5 linked regions of the Homo sapiens genome follow. The protein of the gene in region 2 purifies or fractionates together with the protein of the main gene of each other region. This does not show direct contact. Each region holds a gene or a part of one and is shown on either strand. Other genes may lie near its edges. The genes, in order: ARHGEF1, MFSD2B, CR2, ENPP1 and MARVELD2.

The links.
Region 1: the proteins of MFSD2B (region 2) and ARHGEF1 purify together in Homo sapiens (affinity purification with mass spectrometry; one large-scale study listed by BioGRID and IntAct). This does not show direct contact.
Region 3: the proteins of MFSD2B (region 2) and CR2 purify together in Homo sapiens (affinity purification with mass spectrometry; one large-scale study listed by BioGRID and IntAct). This does not show direct contact.
Region 4: the proteins of MFSD2B (region 2) and ENPP1 purify together in Homo sapiens (affinity purification with mass spectrometry; one large-scale study listed by BioGRID and IntAct). This does not show direct contact.
Region 5: the proteins of MFSD2B (region 2) and MARVELD2 purify together in Homo sapiens (affinity purification with mass spectrometry; one large-scale study listed by BioGRID and IntAct). This does not show direct contact.

The regions. Positions count from the first base shown.
Region 1 is NC_000019.10:41,900,181-41,903,698, reverse strand, and holds part of ARHGEF1 (rho guanine nucleotide exchange factor 1), read right to left. Parts: intron 1,813-3,518; coding exon 1,666-1,812; intron 1,426-1,665; coding exon 1,343-1,425; intron 1,167-1,342; coding exon 1,041-1,166; intron 916-1,040; coding exon 801-915; intron 393-800; coding exon 292-392; intron 44-291; coding exon of another isoform or gene 26-43; exon of another isoform or gene 1-25. UniProt on the Homo sapiens protein: Seems to play a role in the regulation of RhoA GTPase by guanine nucleotide-binding alpha-12 (GNA12) and alpha-13 (GNA13) subunits. Acts as a GTPase-activating protein (GAP) for GNA12 and GNA13, and as guanine nucleotide exchange factor (GEF) for RhoA GTPase.
Region 2 is NC_000002.12:24,013,079-24,016,596, forward strand, and holds part of MFSD2B (sphingosine-1-phosphate transporter MFSD2B), read left to right. Parts: intron 1-206; coding exon 207-332; intron 333-3,077; coding exon 3,078-3,202; intron 3,203-3,518.
Region 3 is NC_000001.11:207,460,811-207,464,328, reverse strand, and holds part of CR2 (complement receptor type 2 isoform 1 precursor), read right to left. Parts: intron 1-3,518. UniProt on the Homo sapiens protein: Serves as a receptor for various ligands including complement component CD3d, HNRNPU OR IFNA1. When C3d is bound to antigens, attaches to C3d on B-cell surface and thereby facilitates the recognition and uptake of antigens by B-cells.
Region 4 is NC_000006.12:131,891,502-131,895,019, reverse strand, and holds part of ENPP1 (ectonucleotide pyrophosphatase/phosphodiesterase family member 1), read right to left. Parts: 3' UTR 1-3,518. UniProt on the Homo sapiens protein: Nucleotide pyrophosphatase that generates diphosphate (PPi) and functions in bone mineralization and soft tissue calcification by regulating pyrophosphate levels.
Region 5 is NC_000005.10:69,418,109-69,421,626, forward strand, and holds part of MARVELD2 (MARVEL domain-containing protein 2), read left to right. Parts: intron 1-1,262; 5' UTR 1,263-1,277; coding exon 1,278-2,423; intron 2,424-3,518. UniProt on the Homo sapiens protein: Plays a role in the formation of tricellular tight junctions and of epithelial barriers.

The sequences.
Region 1 (3,518 bases), on a different chromosome or scaffold from region 2:
GAGACGGGAGCATTATGGGGACAAGCTAAGTGCTGGGGCTGACCTGCAGTGACCCACATTGGTAAGATGAGAGCCAAGACCAACTTCTGATGCGGGCAAGCTGAGGGTTGGGCCTGACCTCCAATGACCCTGAGAGGGAGATGCTGAGGGCCAAGCCAACCCCTGGACACAGTGACCCTTGAGGGAGACAAGCCAAGGGGTGGGGTGTGACTTCTGGACAGGCTGAGGTAGGGTCCACCCCCTGCTCTCACACCATCCACTGTCCCGGGTGTGGGGCCAGCCCAGGCTCACCAGCAGGTCCTCCATGTCACGCACGGCTTGGTTGACGTGGTGTAGAATTTCCCGGCAGCACTCGGCTGCCAGCTCCACTTTCTCCCGTTCTGTGGGCTCTTCTGCAGGCAAGGGAGAGAGCAGCTCTGGTGAACCCCTGCCCTGGAGGCTCCAGATTGGGCAGCCAAGGTTAGACAAAGGACAGCTGGCCGGGCATGGTGGCTCACGCCTGTAATCCAAGCACTTTGGGAGGCTGAGGCGGGAGGATAGCTTGAGACCAGGAGTTCAAAGCCAGCCTGGGCAACATGGCGAGACCCCGTCTCTAAAAAAAAAAACTAAAAAAATTAGCTGGGCATGGTGGTGTGCCCTTGGGGTCCCAGCTACTTGGGGAGCTGAGGTGGGAGGATGGTAGATCCTGGGAGGTTGAGGCTGCAGTGAGCTGTGATGGTATCACTGATGAAAATGAGTGAGAAAAAAAATGTAAAAAAAAAAGAGGAGAGCCGAGGCCCAGAGATCCAGGCCCGCGGTACCTGTGTTCTGCCCGATGCTCTGCAGGAGCAGGGGGTACTTGGTCAGCCGCTGCATCTCCGTGGGGATCATGTCCTTCAGCTGCAGGCGGCGGCACCGCGGGCGGCTCTCAGCTTCCTGCGGGAAACATGCTGGTGTTGCGATGGCCCAGGCTTTGGGCTCACCCCAGGGCGCAGGCACCTAGGAGTCTGGGTCTCCAGGCCCCTCCTCCCTGGGAAGCTGGAGTCCAGACCCCACCTCACCTGCACGAAGGCACAGAACCGAGGGTCCTTGCGTTGCTTGGCTTTGAGCTGCTCTAAGGCAAATGACTGGCGGCTGCAGAAGCGGGAGGAGATTTTCTGGAACCAGGAGCCCTCAGCACCATCAAACTACAGCGAGATTCAGGCCAGGCAGGTGTCTCAGTGGGGATGGGCAAGAACAGGGACTAAAGTACGACAGGCTGGAAGCCCAGACCCTGGGACTGGAGTAGGGTGGGCTCAGGACCCGTCCCGGGCCTGAATTCCATGTGTCTAGCTGGGAGGAGCGGGAGGGCTGGGCATCTCACCCGGGCCAGCAGCACGTCTCCGATCTCCTCGATGAGGTAGCCACTCTCCTGCCTCCGCTTCATCAGGCGATCGAGGAACAGGGCTGTGGGGGCAGGAGGAAAGGGATGCTCCACCAGGGTCTGGAAGATGCTGTGCGGGGCCTGCTGCGGTGTGGTGGGGGTAGGGCTGCAGGTGTGTCTGTGTCTGATCCTCGGGACCGGATGGCGTATCTGCCCCCACCCCATGTGAACCCTGGGGTTCCCGAGCAGGTTGAACCCAGGGCTAGAGCAGAGCTGCCCGTGGGGCAGTGGGGTACACAGAGGGACCCTGGCTCTGCACTCACAATGCACCTCGATGAGCTCGTCCAGGCTGGGGAAGATGTTCTGCAGCTCCTCCAAGGGGAAGAACAGGCATTCTGCCATGGGCTGGAAGAAGAGGTCGTGCAGCACCCGCAGCATGCGCACGTGGGCCGCCTCTGTCACCAGCAGCTCTGCAGGGCCACCAAAGCAGGAAGCATGTTGGGGAGGGTGCAGACTAGGGGGCATGACCTCATGGGCAGGCTAGAGGAATGAGGCAGAGCAGGGAGGAAAGCTTCCTAGAAGTTGGTGGGAAAAAACTCTCTCTGGCTAGCCATGGTGGTTCACACTTGTAATCCCAGCACTTTGGGAGGCCAAGGCAAGAGGATTGCTTGAACCCAGGAGTCCAAGATCAGCCTGGGCAACATGGTGAAACCCTGTTTCTACCAAAAATTTAAAAAAGAAAAAAAATTAGCCCAGGCATGTTGGTGTGTGCCTGTAGTCCCAGCTACTTGGGAGGCTCAAGTGGGAGGATCCCTTGAGCCCAGGAGGTTGAGGCTGCAGTGAGCTATGATGGCATTACTGCACCCCAGCTCAAGCAACAGAGCGAGACCTTGTCTCAAAACAAAATGGCTGGGCACAGTGGCTCATGCCTATAATCCCAGCATTTTGGGAGGCTGAGGCAGGTGGATCACAAGGTCAGGAGTTCAAGACCAGCCTGGCCAACATGGTGAAACCCCATCTCTACTAAAAAAATACAAAAATTAGCCAGGTGTGGGGGCGGACTCTTGTAGTCCCAGCTACTCGGGAGGCTGAGGCAGGAGAATCTCTTGAACCCGGGAGACAGAGGTTGCAGTGAGCTGAGATCACACCACTGCACTCCAGCCTGGTGACAGAACGAGACTCCGTCTCAAAAAAACAAAACAAAACAAACAAATAAAAAAAAAAACTCTCCGGGTGGAGTCATTTGCCCTCTTAAATAGCCACTGAGGGGCCGGGTGCAGTGGCTCATGCCTGTAATCCCAGCAATTTGGGAGGCTTAGGCGGGCAGATCACGAGGTCAAGAGATCAAGACCATCCTGGCCAACATGGTGAAACCCCATCTCTACTAAAAATACAAAAATTAGCCAGGAGTGGTGGTGGGCACCTGTAGTTCCAGCTACTTGGGAGGCTGAGGCAGGACAATCGCTTGAACCTGGGAGGTGGAGGTTGCAGTGAGCGGAGATCACGCCACTGCACTCTAGCCTAGGCGACAGAGCGAGATCGTCTCAAAAAAAAAAAAAAAAAAAAAAAACCAGTGAGGATTCCTCAACCCACTGCCTTTCCCTTTTCGCTGTGGCAGCTGGCCAGAGTGACCAATGGTCCTCATTTGCCTGCCTGGGCTTTCAGTGATAAAACTGTGAATATCCTGAGCAAATGGGGACAAGCTAGTCATCCCACCTGCCAGCAAGCTTGCAGCTGTGTTTAGTGTCTAACCATCAAGCCACATTATACAGTGGTTGACAGCCTCAGATCCAGGGACCCCCACATCCCCGGAGGGCATATGTGTGAGTTTCAGGGGCCCTAGAAGTCCCCTGAGACTAAAAGCACGATTTTGTACATTATGCATATTCTTTCTGGGGAAAGAAATTGCTATCCTGTCCAACGTGATAGTCACCAGCCGTGTACAACTCTTTACATTTTCGTTAATTGCAATGAAATTTTAAGTCAGTGCTCAGTTGTATTTAGTGCTTTTTTTTTGAGACACAGTCTTGCTCTGTCACCTAGATTGAAGTGTGGTGGAGTGATCTGGGTTCATTGCAACCTCCATCTCCTGCTTCCTGGGTTCAAGCAATTCTCCTGGCTTACTCTCTCGAGTATCTGGGATTACAGGCATGCGCCACTATGCTTGGCTAATTTT
Region 2 (3,518 bases):
GAAATGTTTAGAGGTCAGGGTTTAGGATCTTTTTTCTCTTCGTCTCACTTCCTCTTAGGATGACATGGGGGCAAAATGGGGCTGAGAGGTTGCTGGAAAAGCCCTGAAGACATCACAGAGACTCAGGATGTTTACTGAAGTCATGGGGTGTGGGGACCTGTTTTGTGTCTGTTGGGAGAAGGGCTTAGTTCCTGTGTCTCCTCCAGGACAGCAGAGCCGGTCGCCTCTCATTCTGTACAAAGGTGTGCTATGGCATTGGTGGGGTCCCCAACCAGATAGCCTCCAGCGCCACAGCCTTTTACCTGCAGCTTTTCCTGCTTGATATAGCACAGGTAAGTGTGGGCAGTAGCCCAGTCTCTGCTGGCATCTTCCTTGGGGTCTGGTCCTTCCACCCCCACCTCTGCTTCTGCTCCCACTATCCTTGTAGACAGCACTTCTGACACGAGCTCAACAAAAAGCCAGAAGCCAATGAGGGCAAGGTACTCAAGAATGTTTACTGCAGCCTGTTTGTAGTGGGAAAATGAGAAACAATGTAGATCCCCGACAATATAGAAGCAGTTGGCTAAGTAAGCTGTATCATAGCCACATAATAGACCAAGCCTGTCCAACCCGCGGCGGGACGGCTTTGAATGCGGCCCCACACAAATTTGTAAACTTTCTTAAAACAGTATGAATTTTTTTGTTTTTTTTTTTTTTTAGCTCATTAGCTATCATTAGTGTTAGTGTATTTTATGTGTTTATATGTGGCCCAAGACGATTCTTTTTTTTTTTTTTTTTTTGAGACAGAGTCTCACTCTGTTGCCCAGGCTGGAGTGCAGTGGTGTGATCTTGGGGCTCACTGCAACCTCTGCCTCCCAGGTTCAAGCGATTCTCATGCCTCAGCCTCCCGAGTAGCTGGGATCACAGGTGCACACCACCACACTCGGCTAATTTGTTGTTTGTTTTTTTTTTTGAGATGGAGTCTCGCTCTGTCACCCAGGCTGGAGTGCAATGGCATGATCTCGGCTCACTGCAACCTCTGCCTCCCGGGTTTAGCAATTCTCCTGCCTCAGCCTCCAGAGTAGCTGGGATTACAGGTGTGTGCCATCATGCCTGGCTAATTTTTTGTATTTTTAGTAGAGACAACAGTTTCACCATGCTGGCCAGGCTGGTCTTGAACTCCTGACCTCGTGATCCACCCACCTCAGCCTCCCAAAGTGCTGGGATTATAGACGTGGACCACCGCGCCCAGTCTACAGCTAATTTTTGTGTTTTTAGTAGAGACGGGGTTTCGCCATGTTGGCCAGGCTGGTCTCGAACTCCTGATCTCAGGTGTTCCATCCACCACAGCTTCCCAAAGTGCTGGGATTACAGGCGTGAGCCACCGTGCCTGGCCAAGACAATTCTTCTTCTTCCAGTGTGGCCCACAGAAGTCAACAGACTACACTAACATCACTATCAAATAGACTATCATGCAGCCATTCAAAATAATGATCTATACCAGTTGACTTAGAGTGATTTCCATGATGCTCTGGTGAAAAAGAAAAGTTAGTTTTAGAGAAGAGTATATAAAATGATCCCATTTTAACAAAACAAAGACAGGCTCCATATGTGTGTGTGTGGATGGATATGTATATATACATATGTATCTGTCCATGTTTAAAATGTGAGCATGGAGAAAATTCTAGAAGGATATACACCAACTCGTTAATGTTGGCTACCGGAGGGAATGATGGAGAATGGAGGGTAAGTAAAACCAAATTTTTAAAATGAGGTATCCAGCCGAGCATGGTGGCTCACAGCTGTAATCCCAGCACTTTGCGAGGCCGAGGAGGGAGGATCACTTGAGGTCAGGAGTTCAAGACCAGCTTGACCAATATGGTGAACCCCATTTCTACTAAATATACAAAAATTAGCCAGGCGTGGTGGCACACGCCTGTAGTCACAGCTACTCAGGAAGCTGAGGCAGGATAATTGCTTGAACCCAGGAGGTGGAGGTTGCAGTGAGCTAAGATTGCACCACCACATTCCAGCCTGGGCGACAGAGCAAGACTCCCTCTCAAAAACAAAACAAAAACCAACAACAAAAAAATGAGGTATCCAGCCGGGTATGGTGGCTCACACACCCAGCACTTTGGGAGGTCAAGGCGGGAGGACCGTCTAAGCTCAGGTGTTCAAGACCAGCCTGGGCAACATGGCAAAACTCCACCTCCACAAAAAAAAAAAAAATTTAAAAATACAAAAATTAGCTCGGTGTAGAGGAACGTGCCTGTGGTCTCAGCTACTTGGGAGGCTGAGGTGGGAGAATCACCTGAGCCCAAGAGGCAGTGGTTGCAGTGAGCCGAGATGGTGCCACTGCACTCCAGCCTGGGCAACAGAGCGAGGCCCTGTCTCAATTAAAAAATAAAATAAAATAATAAAATGAGGTATCCACGAATGTTTAAGATGACAGTCTGATATGATCCCATTTATATAAACTGATCAATCTCAAGCACACATGAAGAAGCCTATGAAAGGCTGATCATCCAAACGATTCTGGCAGTTGTCTTGGGATGCTGCGATTTCAGATGAGCTTTGCTTAGTATTTTCCTGCATAGTTTGAGTGTTTTTCTAATAAGTGTATTATTTACATAGTCAGAAAAAACAATGCATCCTTTCCATTGTGAAACACAGTGTCCACCTCTGTCAGCCCAGAGGCACCCTCCTTGCTCTGAGCCAGAATGTTTTTCTAATGAGTGTATTATTTACATAGTCAGAAAAACCAGTGAATCCTTTCCATTGTGAAACACAGTGTCCACCTCTGTCAGCCCAGAGGCACCCTCCTTGCTCTGAGCCAGCCCCAGATGAGGGCCCTGGAGTCCTCTCCGCAGTGGCTGACATGAGTACTAATGGGAGTGTGCAGGGCGGCAGCACTCAGCTCCCTCCCCTGGACTCAGCCCCGGGATCAGCATCCTGGGGAAGGCTGAGGAGCCCTTGACACTGTGGCTCTGCCCTCCGGTCCCGGTTCCCAGGCCTCCCTCTTGATGGCAAGCAGGCCTGGATGGGCTCTCTGCTGCTGCTGGGCCTCAGCTCTCTATCCCCTCCCCTGTCTGTTTCAGATCCCTGCCGCCCAGGTGTCACTTGTTCTGTTTGGGGGAAAAGTGTCTGGGGCGGCTGCTGACCCTGTGGCTGGGTTCTTCATCAACAGGAGCCAGAGGACAGGGTCTGGACGGCTCATGCCTTGGTGAGCAACCGCTCAGTCCTTAGGATCCAGGCACCTGGTCCTGGCCCTGAGGTCACTGTTTGTCACAGCCCTATTTCCTAGCAGAAACCCACTGGGTGGTTAGGAGACAAGACTGGATAATATCGCAGGTGCACTGGGGACTGACTGTGAGTGATAAGGAGTTCAGAGACATTCTTGGGGACTCTCCCTCCCCAGATGGCACGGGGCTGGATGAAGCCTCCAAGACTCCCAGGCCTGGCCTGGGGCACTGAGTGTGGGAAGGCTGGGCTGAAGGCCATGCGAGGCCTCACGGAGGAAGTACAGCTCAGTGTCCCAA
Region 3 (3,518 bases), on a different chromosome or scaffold from region 2:
CTTCATTCTTGCAATCCAAACTGCAACTCAGCCTACAATTTACCTATTTTGTTGAAATTCTGTATCCTGATCTCAAAGATGATTCTAAATAGGAAGTAGCAAGGTCAAAAGATATATGGAACTGGCTGATAAAAACCGAAAAGCTATGAGCTGGTCACCAGTCCCCGCCCCAGACCACAGATAAATTGTTATAGAAGGGACCTAGGGTGGCTTACTTTTTGCATGGAATAAAGTTGGCAGTGTGTAATCTCCTGGAATGTTTTAGATGTAAGCATTTACTCACTATGAAATAACTTATAATCAAAGGACAGTAAACAAAGGAACGTGTGGTAGGATTGGGGGCCATGAGGAAGATGGGTAAGTCATAGCTGTGTGCCTAGAGCTACTCAAACCAAGTGTAAACCCTCCTGGCTACTCACTTTGGTGTGCAGATGCTCAATTTCCCTCTGGAAGGGGACAAGAGGAATTAAATAGGGTGCAATAAAGAGATTGTTTTACTTACATTCATTAAAAGGCATGTCATTATCCCAGGTTACAATATTGTCTGAGATAATACATGTAGCAGATGAGTCACCAAAGAGTAGATATCTAAAGACAAAGAGATAAGAAATCTCGCGGCACACGTTTACCCTGTAACAAAACTGCACATCCTGCACATGTACCCCAGAACTTAAAATAAAAATAAAAATAAAGAGTGATCATCTCCCAGCTAGACTTACATTTTAGAAAAACTTAGTTCTTTCTCTACTGAAAGAATAGCAGAGAATAGAATATCATTTATGACAAGCAGGGGTGACAGATTAAGGACTCATACAATTTAAAGCCAAATGAAATTCAAGCTCCTGGTCAGTAGCACTGGAGACTTAAAACTGGAAGAGAGCAGCCAAAACTTCCTTCTCTTCTAGGGATCCTCTCTAGCTGGTAATCTTGAAGCAGTGTCTCTGGAGTGGATCAGGGAGGTGATTCCTTTTTGCTTATTTATTTTAAAAAGTATGTGGCAATTACTCAGATCTCTTTTGGAAGAGTGATGGTTTCTGGTTGGAACTGCTGTTCTGGTATCCATGTACCCAGGAACTGTCTCCTGCCAACTCACCCTTTATTACAAGAATATGTCATTGTCAACCCAAATGCAATACCCATGTGTGTAATCACAGAGTCCTAAAGGAGTTCTCTATGACTCACACATGATTTATCTACAAAAGAAAACCAAATCAACCCAAACAGAATTTGAGGCTGGGATTCAGGAGACTTTTTGGAGACTTTTTGTGTTTTATATTAAATCTCAACCTGACTGGACTTGCTGACAGGCCTGCTTATGTTTACTCACAGAAATTCTTACATTTACAAAACTTTCCAACGGATCAGTCAACTCTAGAACACTACTTGTTTAATGCACACAGTCTGCATTTCTGTGCATGGATGCCAACTTTATTTGTGGTCAGTTATAACTTATAGTCTTCATTTTCCATTTTTATACATATTCTGTTAATCTATGATATCATCTACCAAGTCTTCTGCCTTAAAAATCTCACAGTGATCATTTCCTTTTTGTAACTCATCCTCTAACTCATCCTCTACTCTCTTCTCTTCATTCAATTACTTACTGAAGTTTAGTGACTGGACTCCAGAAATCTCTCTCCAAACCAACTATTTTGTCATTGCAGTAGTCTCTCATTGGATCACTGAATGACATAATTTACTTTTCTAATTGTTCTCCCTTGGGCTGGTACACCTTCTATACTACTGCACATTTATCTTTCTAAAACACAAATGTGGTCATGCCACTCTGCACATTTAAAAACTTACTATGACTTACCACTGTTTATAGGGAAAAAATGCATATATTTTTTTACAAGTAAGCTCCAATCCATTTAATCAACTACCATTCCTCACTATGTAGCCTATACTCCAACAACACTGATTTTTTCCAGAGACATCATGTTCTTGCACACTTATGCTTTTGCAAATGCTGTTTCCTCTGCTCAGAGGGCCTATAGTTCTCTAATTCTTCTAGGTAGCATTTATGATTTATTTCTCTATGACCTCATAGCACTTCTTAAATAAGAGAACTACCTCATAGTACAATATATATTTAAGAGTTGGCCTTTACAACTAGTGTAGGAGTTTCTCAAAGGCAAAGACTATCAGATTCATTTTTATGTCACTCCCAGGCCCCACTGTCTGGTCTAGAGCTTAGTATCTAGTAGTTACTTAAAAGTATTTTTTGAATTGAATGGGATGAGGATGAGGTAATATTAACATCTCTTGTCTCTAACTTCTAACCTCACCCTAACACAGTATGGATACCATAGATCAAAGTCATAAAGATCACAGGATGAATAGGTTTGGCCAGCTATCATGACTTAACCCTCATACCCAGTGCCCCTAGGAGTAAAAGGAAGCATGGAGCACTCAGGAGCCCTCTTCACTTGAGATGACATGTGAATTTACTGGTCTTTTATCTTAAACATAACATGTTATCTCATCCAGATACAGCGACAGACCCAAATATGCCTCTATTACAGGATTACTCACCTTTACAGAACTGCTGAGCATCTGACCACTTGAAGATCTCTAGGGAGGTGACAAAGAATGCCTCTTGATATACCCAAGAAAGCATTTGTATTTGCAAGATATCTCAACAGCAAACTTAAGATTGGTTACTCTGAATTTTAGGCTTAGCAAAAGGAAACCTTGGCAGAAACTTACCCTGACCTGAGGACCTGAGACAAAGGCTACAGAAACATAAAAACCAAGAGAGGCTAAAACCTCTTCTCTGCTTCTGCCTTGTTACCAATTATCCTGAAAACTTTGATCTTTAGAATGAAAGTCTAAAATAGGGCAATATTTTATGGAATGAAGAATGCATATCATTGCAGTAAGGGTGAATATACACAGAAATAAGCTCAGAGGTTCAGAGAATTTTTAGGGTAGACTTCAGAGATGGAGAAAGTAATTTTTCATAAAATTTCAGAAAATCCTCAGAATTGTTCCATCTCCTTCACCCTTACAAGTAAAAATTAGTGGTTTTAGTTTGTTTGCTTGTTTTTTCACAGTGAGGTCAGAGTCTGGGGAAAACAGGAAAGGCATGTGGCAAGGGCCTTGAAGGATGATTACATATGTTTTGATTTTTTTTTATAAGGGTGGTAGGGGGAGCGGATATTAATATTTTTCCCAGCTTCAATGAGGTCTTATTTATACACAAAAAAACTGCACATAACTAATGTACGCTATTTGTGAATTTGTGGGACAAAAAGGTAAAAATCTTTAAATACAAACTTTCCCAGGATAGCATAAGAAACTAAAGTATATAAGAGATCTTGTAAAAGCTCAGTACACATATGATCCTGAAAATTACTTTAATGAATTTACATAACTATCTTAGCTATTAAACCGTTAATGCCTAGAGAGGAGAAAATATGTTGATTATTCTTCATTATTTTATTCTGTTAATCTAGTAGAGTAATATGCCACCAAAGAGAACTCAGTAAATACTTTCTGATGGGAACTAGATAAAG
Region 4 (3,518 bases), on a different chromosome or scaffold from region 2:
TTATAAAATTTTACTTAATGCTTATGAAAGCACTCATGTGAAAAGCTTCAGCATGAAGTGTAATCACCACATTCAGTTTCAAAGTTCAAATGCCCATTCCTATGATGGGTAAACACCTACCATAGCGCAAAGAAGGAGAGTGATTGTGGGTAATGACAGAGGAGGAAAAGTGAAGGGGGTAACAGCTTCTCCCAGAGGAGGGGGTGGTCCCTGTTCCATGCCCATCTTGTCTCCTTAAACAGGAACAGCCAACAGGCCTACCAGTCCTTGTACTCTATGCAGCTACTTCCCCTGCTGGAAATGAGCAGCTGCCTTCTTCTCCCTAAGGTTTGTCCTCTTTTATCTGATTCTTGGAAACGTTTTTTTAAGTTTTGCCAGGTTCTTTGTTCTTTCATGAATGAACTGATGGAAATTTTCTATGGAAGTTACTTACCTCACTTAAGAAGCACACAGCAGCTCTCGCCTATAATCCTAGCACTTTGGGAGGCCAAGGCGGGGGGATTGTCTGAGCTCAGGAGATCAAGACCAGCCTGAGCAACACAGTGAAACCCCATCTCCACTAAAATACAAAAAGCCAGGTGTGGCATGCGCCTATAATCCCAGCTACTCAGGAGGCTGAGGCAGGAGAATTGCTAGAACCCCGGAGGTGGAGGTTGCAGTGAGCCGAGATCATGCCACTGCAGTCTAGCCTGGGCCACAGAGCGAGACTCTGTCTCAAAAAAAAAAAAAAGGACTGATGTGAGGCATGACAGTAGAAATCAGGATAGGCTGGAGGCAGTGGCTCGAGCCTGTAATCCCAGCACTTTGGGAGGCCGAGGCGGGCAGATCACAAGGTCAGGAGATCGAGACCATCCTGGCTAACACGGTGAAACTCCATTCTCTACTAAAAATACAAAAAATTAGCCAGGCGTGACGGCAGGTGCCTGTAGTCCCAGTTACTCGGGAGGCTGAGCCAGGAGAATGGCGTGAACCTGGGAGGCGGAGCTTGCAGTGAGCCAAGATCTTGCCACTGCACTCCAGCCTGGGTGACAGAGCATCTCAAAAAAAAAAAAAAAAAAAAAAAAAAAAAAGAAATCAAGATAAATAAAGGTTTCACTTTGCATTTGAAAAGCTAAGAACAGCCTTTATTGGAGAAAGTAGGATAAAGACATTTCCATATATGTTCATGGGAATTTACCATTCAAATTTACCATTCAAACTGGGGGAGTAGAGATCAGTCACTTTTGCCATCTTATCTGTTTAAAACTCTTTCAAGAAAAGAAAAGAAAGGAGGAGTCTCTTTCAAGAAAAGAAAAAAAGGAATACTGTGTAAGAACCACAGAAAAAAAGCTAAGTAGGAGCAGATGTGGGTGCTCTTTCCTTAACAGTCAGCATAGAATGTAGAGACTGACATTTTCTTTAAGAACAGATTATTATAACTAAGCAAGAAAAAGTATGTGTACATAAGTTGGTCACAGTGACACTTGTAGAAAATATAAGTAGCTGTAAATGGGAAAATGTCAAAAATGTTCCATCCAAGGAATGTTAGAAGGTCCCTTCTTTGCCTTGCTCATCTGAAAAGTTCCAATTCACCCTACAAGCCTTAGCCCCAAGGCTGGGAAGCCACTGCCTCTACTACCAAGAAGCATCCAGTGTCTCTTTTGTGCAGCCTGGCACCCCTCCTGTGGCTTCATGATAACATCTATCACTCTTTAGGGATCATTTACACTTCTGCTGTCTCTTCTCCCTAAGACAGAGAAAATTGTCACTTGTTCTTTTTTGTATTCTTGGCGTCCAGCAAAGGGAACAGACATCTATCCATTTAATTAAGCTCTGCTAAGATGCTTTGAGTTAAATTGTGTATGTTTGTGTGCTGGAAAAATATGTAAAAATCAGTGAGACACTTCTACAAAGGCAGAGTAGACATCCTTCTGCTAAATGCATATAAAAATCCTGGATATTATATTAAAACACAGCAAGACTCTGAATAGTAGACAGAAAATAGGCTAGGAACATTGGGGCCCAAGTAACAACACTGTGATGAGTTCCCTACATTTTCTTTTCAGCTCATATATTTCCAACTTGGAGCTGAAAAAGTCAGCAACCTGGAAATGTCAATAAATGCAGGGGAAAAAAAAGCCCTAAGAGAGTCCTGCTCTCTCCTGCCAAAGGACCAGAAAAGGGTAGCCAAGCAAGGGTAAAAAAGGCTGTACTCCAACCAAACACCATGGAAAAACACCATGGCCCCACCCATACCAGCAAATGCTGAGTGGGGAGTCCAGACTTACACTCTCACCAAGCTGTAAAGAGGTGCCCCAACTCCCTGACTTTTGTATTCTTGGTATCCAGCAAAGGGAACAGGCATCTATCCATTTAATTAAGCTCTGCTAAGATGCTTTGAGTTAAATTGTGTATGTTTGTGTGCTGGAAGAATACAACTCCAGAGTGGTGTCGGAGAAGGCTGTGTAGGCTACTGGGAATTTCATTCCCACCTGGTGTAATGAAGCTCTTCCTGGTCACTCTGTCCCATAGCATTAGTGGAGATTCCCAGGGTGCACCAAAAGGTGCCGCTGCACATTCCAGCCAGGGAAGAATCAATAAAGACCTAATGGGAAACTGAATTCTCACCTTGCCCAGTAGTAATGAGGGGACCCTGTTACTCAGTATAAAGGGAGGCTGACTGGGGAACCTGGACTCCTAGCCACACCTGGTAATAATGAAGCAGTGCTCCCAATTCCCCTGCTGTGGTGGTATCTGAGAAAGTTGGCTAAAGCAGAAGGTTTAAATAAGACCCATAGTCTCATAACATAATACCTAAAAATATCCAGGTTTCAATAAAAAATCATTCCACACACCAAGAAACAGGAAAATGTTTCCGAATGGAAAAAAGACCATCAGTAGATGCAAACAATGAGGTGACAGATGTTGGAATTATCTGATAAGGATTTTACAGCAGCCATCATAAAAATTCTTCAACAAGCAAGTATAAATGCACTTGAAACAAATGAAAACGTAGAAAGTCTCAGCAAAGAGACAGAAATTCTCAGCAAATAGAAGATATAAAGAAAAACTGAATGGAAATTTTAGAAATAAAACATACAATAACTAAAATATAAAAATCAGGAATAAATGGGCTCAACAGCAGAACAGATTAGACAGAATAAAGAATCAGTGAGCTTCGAGACAGAAGAATAAAATTACCTAATCTGAACAACAGAGAGAAGCAGGCTGAAAAAAATATCATATACAGAGCTTCAGGAAACTGCAGGACTGAAAAAAAAAAAAAAAAAAAGCAACTTCCTAAATTATTAAATAATTTTGAGTTGTAAATTGTATTTTCCAAAAGTCTTTGCAGCTGGCCCTTAGGCCGTTGAAGAATGGTCACACGAAGGACATATAAAAATCTTTGGTGTACTGATATTATACCTCAATTGGACCTATGTAGCCTAAAAGTTAATGCAGTCTTTGAAGGTTCACAGGTAGGGATAAAAAGCTACAGTCAAGGTAGTAAAGAAATCAAGTTCATTGTGTCATTTATC
Region 5 (3,518 bases), on a different chromosome or scaffold from region 2:
AAAATATTAAATAAATAAAACAATAACAAAAAAGATGGGGTTATCCATTTTAATTTTGAGACCTTCATAGTATCAAGTACAATACCATGTGCCCAGTTTAAGTCTTCAATAATGAGTCTTGGCAGGGTGTGAATGAAAAAATTTTTTTAAGTCTTCAAACAAAATACTTATAAACAATTCGAGAGAGAAATTCAGCATACCTTAAAACTAGTAGTTAATTCACAAATGGTTTCCTTCTTTCTGTATATGGGTGCAGAGCATTGATTTCATGAATCAACAGGCTTAGTAAAAGTGCATTTTCTATGCTTTATTTTTGAGGTGGATTGAATACCTTCTGAGATACTTGAGTCTCTCCTTGGGAACAGTAAATCACCTGAATTGCCCTCGAAAGAGTAATAGTAATGGTCATTGCTGCCATTCTCTATTGTGCCTTGGGGGAGCCTTAGCCTTTGGTGATGTTGTCTCTGAGATTCAACTTTTTTACATCTAGTTTCAATTGTTAATATTTTAGACTGGAAGAAGCAAGTCCTCTAAAATGACTTTGTTGATTTAGGAAGGGGAAGGGCTGTGCATACCCTGTGTTTTAACAGACTGCCTCTCCTAGGCTATTCCAAGTGAAAATGAAGAATATTTGCTGACCCATCAAATTTCGCTACACTCAAACTCTTAGTATTTTGATTTAGATGTTTGAGGAAATGACTCTACTTGGGAGTGTGTTCGCGTTCTGTTGTGTTAAAGTTTTGTCACTTTTGTTTTTTATTTTATTGTTTAATAGGGCTCACAGATAAATTAGATTTATAAATCATTTTTCATTTCTTTTTTTTTTTCTTTTTTTTAGAGACAGAGACTCACTGTGTCAGCCAGGCTGGAGTGCAGTGGCGCAATCTCGACTCACTGCAACCTCTGCCTCCCGGGTTCAAGCGGTCTATACCTCAGCCACCTGAGTAGCTGGGATCACAGGCGCATGCCACAACGCCTGGCTAGTTTTTGTATTTTTAGTAGAGATAGTGTTTCACCATGTTGGTCAGGCTGGTCTCAAACTCCTGACCTGAAATGATCCGTCTGTCTTGGCCTCCCAAAGTGCTGGGATTACAGGCATGAGCCACCGTGCCCGGTATCATATTTATCATTTTTGTATATCATAATAATTAGACATGATCCTGTTGGTCTCCTAAATACTTTTTGCTACTACATGAATAAAATCAGCATCATTGAGAGGATAAGTAACTAATCATAAGTGATAACTTTAAATTTGGCCACAGGTGTGAAAATCACAAATGTCAAATGATGGAAGATCCAGGAATCGGGACAGGCGCTACGATGAGGTCCCAAGCGACCTGCCCTATCAAGATACCACCATAAGAACCCACCCAACTCTTCATGACAGTGAGCGGGCAGTGAGCGCTGATCCCTTGCCACCACCCCCTCTCCCATTACAGCCACCATTCGGCCCAGACTTCTACTCAAGTGACACAGAAGAACCAGCTATAGCGCCAGATCTCAAACCAGTAAGGCGCTTTGTCCCTGACTCCTGGAAGAACTTTTTCAGAGGGAAGAAAAAGGACCCCGAATGGGATAAGCCGGTGTCTGATATCAGGTACATCTCCGATGGAGTGGAGTGTTCACCACCAGCCTCTCCAGCAAGACCAAACCACCGTTCGCCCCTCAACTCCTGCAAAGATCCCTACGGAGGGTCAGAAGGAACCTTTAGTTCCCGGAAAGAGGCTGACGCAGTGTTTCCCCGGGATCCCTATGGATCTCTAGACCGACACACACAAACAGTTCGAACATACAGTGAGAAGGTGGAGGAGTATAACCTGAGATACTCCTACATGAAGTCGTGGGCAGGCCTGCTGAGAATACTGGGTGTGGTGGAGCTGCTTTTGGGGGCCGGTGTCTTTGCTTGTGTCACAGCTTACATTCACAAGGACAGTGAGTGGTACAACTTGTTTGGATATTCACAACCGTATGGCATGGGAGGCGTTGGTGGATTGGGCAGTATGTATGGGGGCTATTACTACACTGGCCCTAAGACCCCTTTTGTACTCGTGGTTGCTGGATTAGCTTGGATCACCACCATTATTATTCTGGTTCTTGGCATGTCCATGTATTACCGGACCATTCTTCTGGACTCTAATTGGTGGCCCCTAACTGAATTTGGAATTAACGTTGCCTTGTTTATTTTGTATATGGCCGCAGCCATAGTCTATGTGAATGATACCAACCGAGGTGGCCTCTGCTACTATCCGTTATTTAATACACCAGTGAATGCAGTGTTCTGCCGGGTAGAAGGAGGACAGATAGCTGCAATGATCTTCCTGTTTGTCACCATGATAGTTTATCTCATTAGTGCTTTGGTTTGCCTAAAGTTATGGAGGCATGAGGCAGCTCGGAGACATAGAGAATATATGGAACAACAGGAGGTAAGTGATTTCATAATCCCTCATTTGTGTGTGTATGTTTGTTTTTTCTGTTATTTGCTCCCTTGTTAAAAAATGTATAGCGCTCAAAACAGAAAGCTTTCATAGAAATCTTTTCTTTCTTCCTTTTTTTTTTTTTCAATGGTCTGAGATTCAAAAGTCCTAGTGCAATATCTGACATGCTTTGACTGGGATAACCCACTCTGGTGTTTGGCTGTTACATAACATTGCAAGTAGACACCAGATGTGTAATATATAGTTTGTTGGCTGCATTATTATGTCTGTCTGAAGCTTAAGGGAAAGATACAGCTACCGAATTTTTGCAAAGAAGAAGAGTGTACTCAGTAAAATAAGTGTCTCATCATTAAGTTTGAGAACAATCTTAATTCTTTAATAAAAGCTCCTAATTTTTCATTTAAATGTTACAATTTACTTTCTCCCAGTGAGTTGAATAAAGCCAAATAAGAATGTGGTAAACCATGTTTGATTTTTTTTAAGTATTGAGAGATTGAATTGTAATGAACATACTCTGAAAACTTGCCCAGTGGTTTTGATAATTTGTCTTTATTTGAGGAAGACGTATGGTCCAAAATGAGAATGGAAGTCCTACATTGTTTTTATATTTCTAGAACTTAATAGGATAATAATGAGAATAAATAATAATGAGAACAATAAGAAGAATAAAATAATAATAACTGAAGGATGAGATAAAAGCCCTACCTAAAATTATTTTGGTTGAACAGTAGCAAATGTTAGAGTATGTTCCACTGGCTACATTATTCTCTGAAGTAAGTTGATATTTTGCCTTCTTCCAAGGATATGTGTATAGTAGACTCTCCTATGCCACTGAAATTTTCAGTATTTACCTTAAAATTTTTTGTAATTTTAAGTTAACTATATTATGAATTTTTGCTTTTCCACTTTTCCTAAGACTTCTTAGATACTATACAATTGCACATGGTATATATTGGGCAAAACTATAAATAAAAATTAAATCCTGTCCTTATAACAGCACACACTGACATATGTATTTTGTTTTTAATCTTTTGCTTGAATCTGATGCATAGCAACAAATAGCGCTTTGGTTTTAAAATTTTT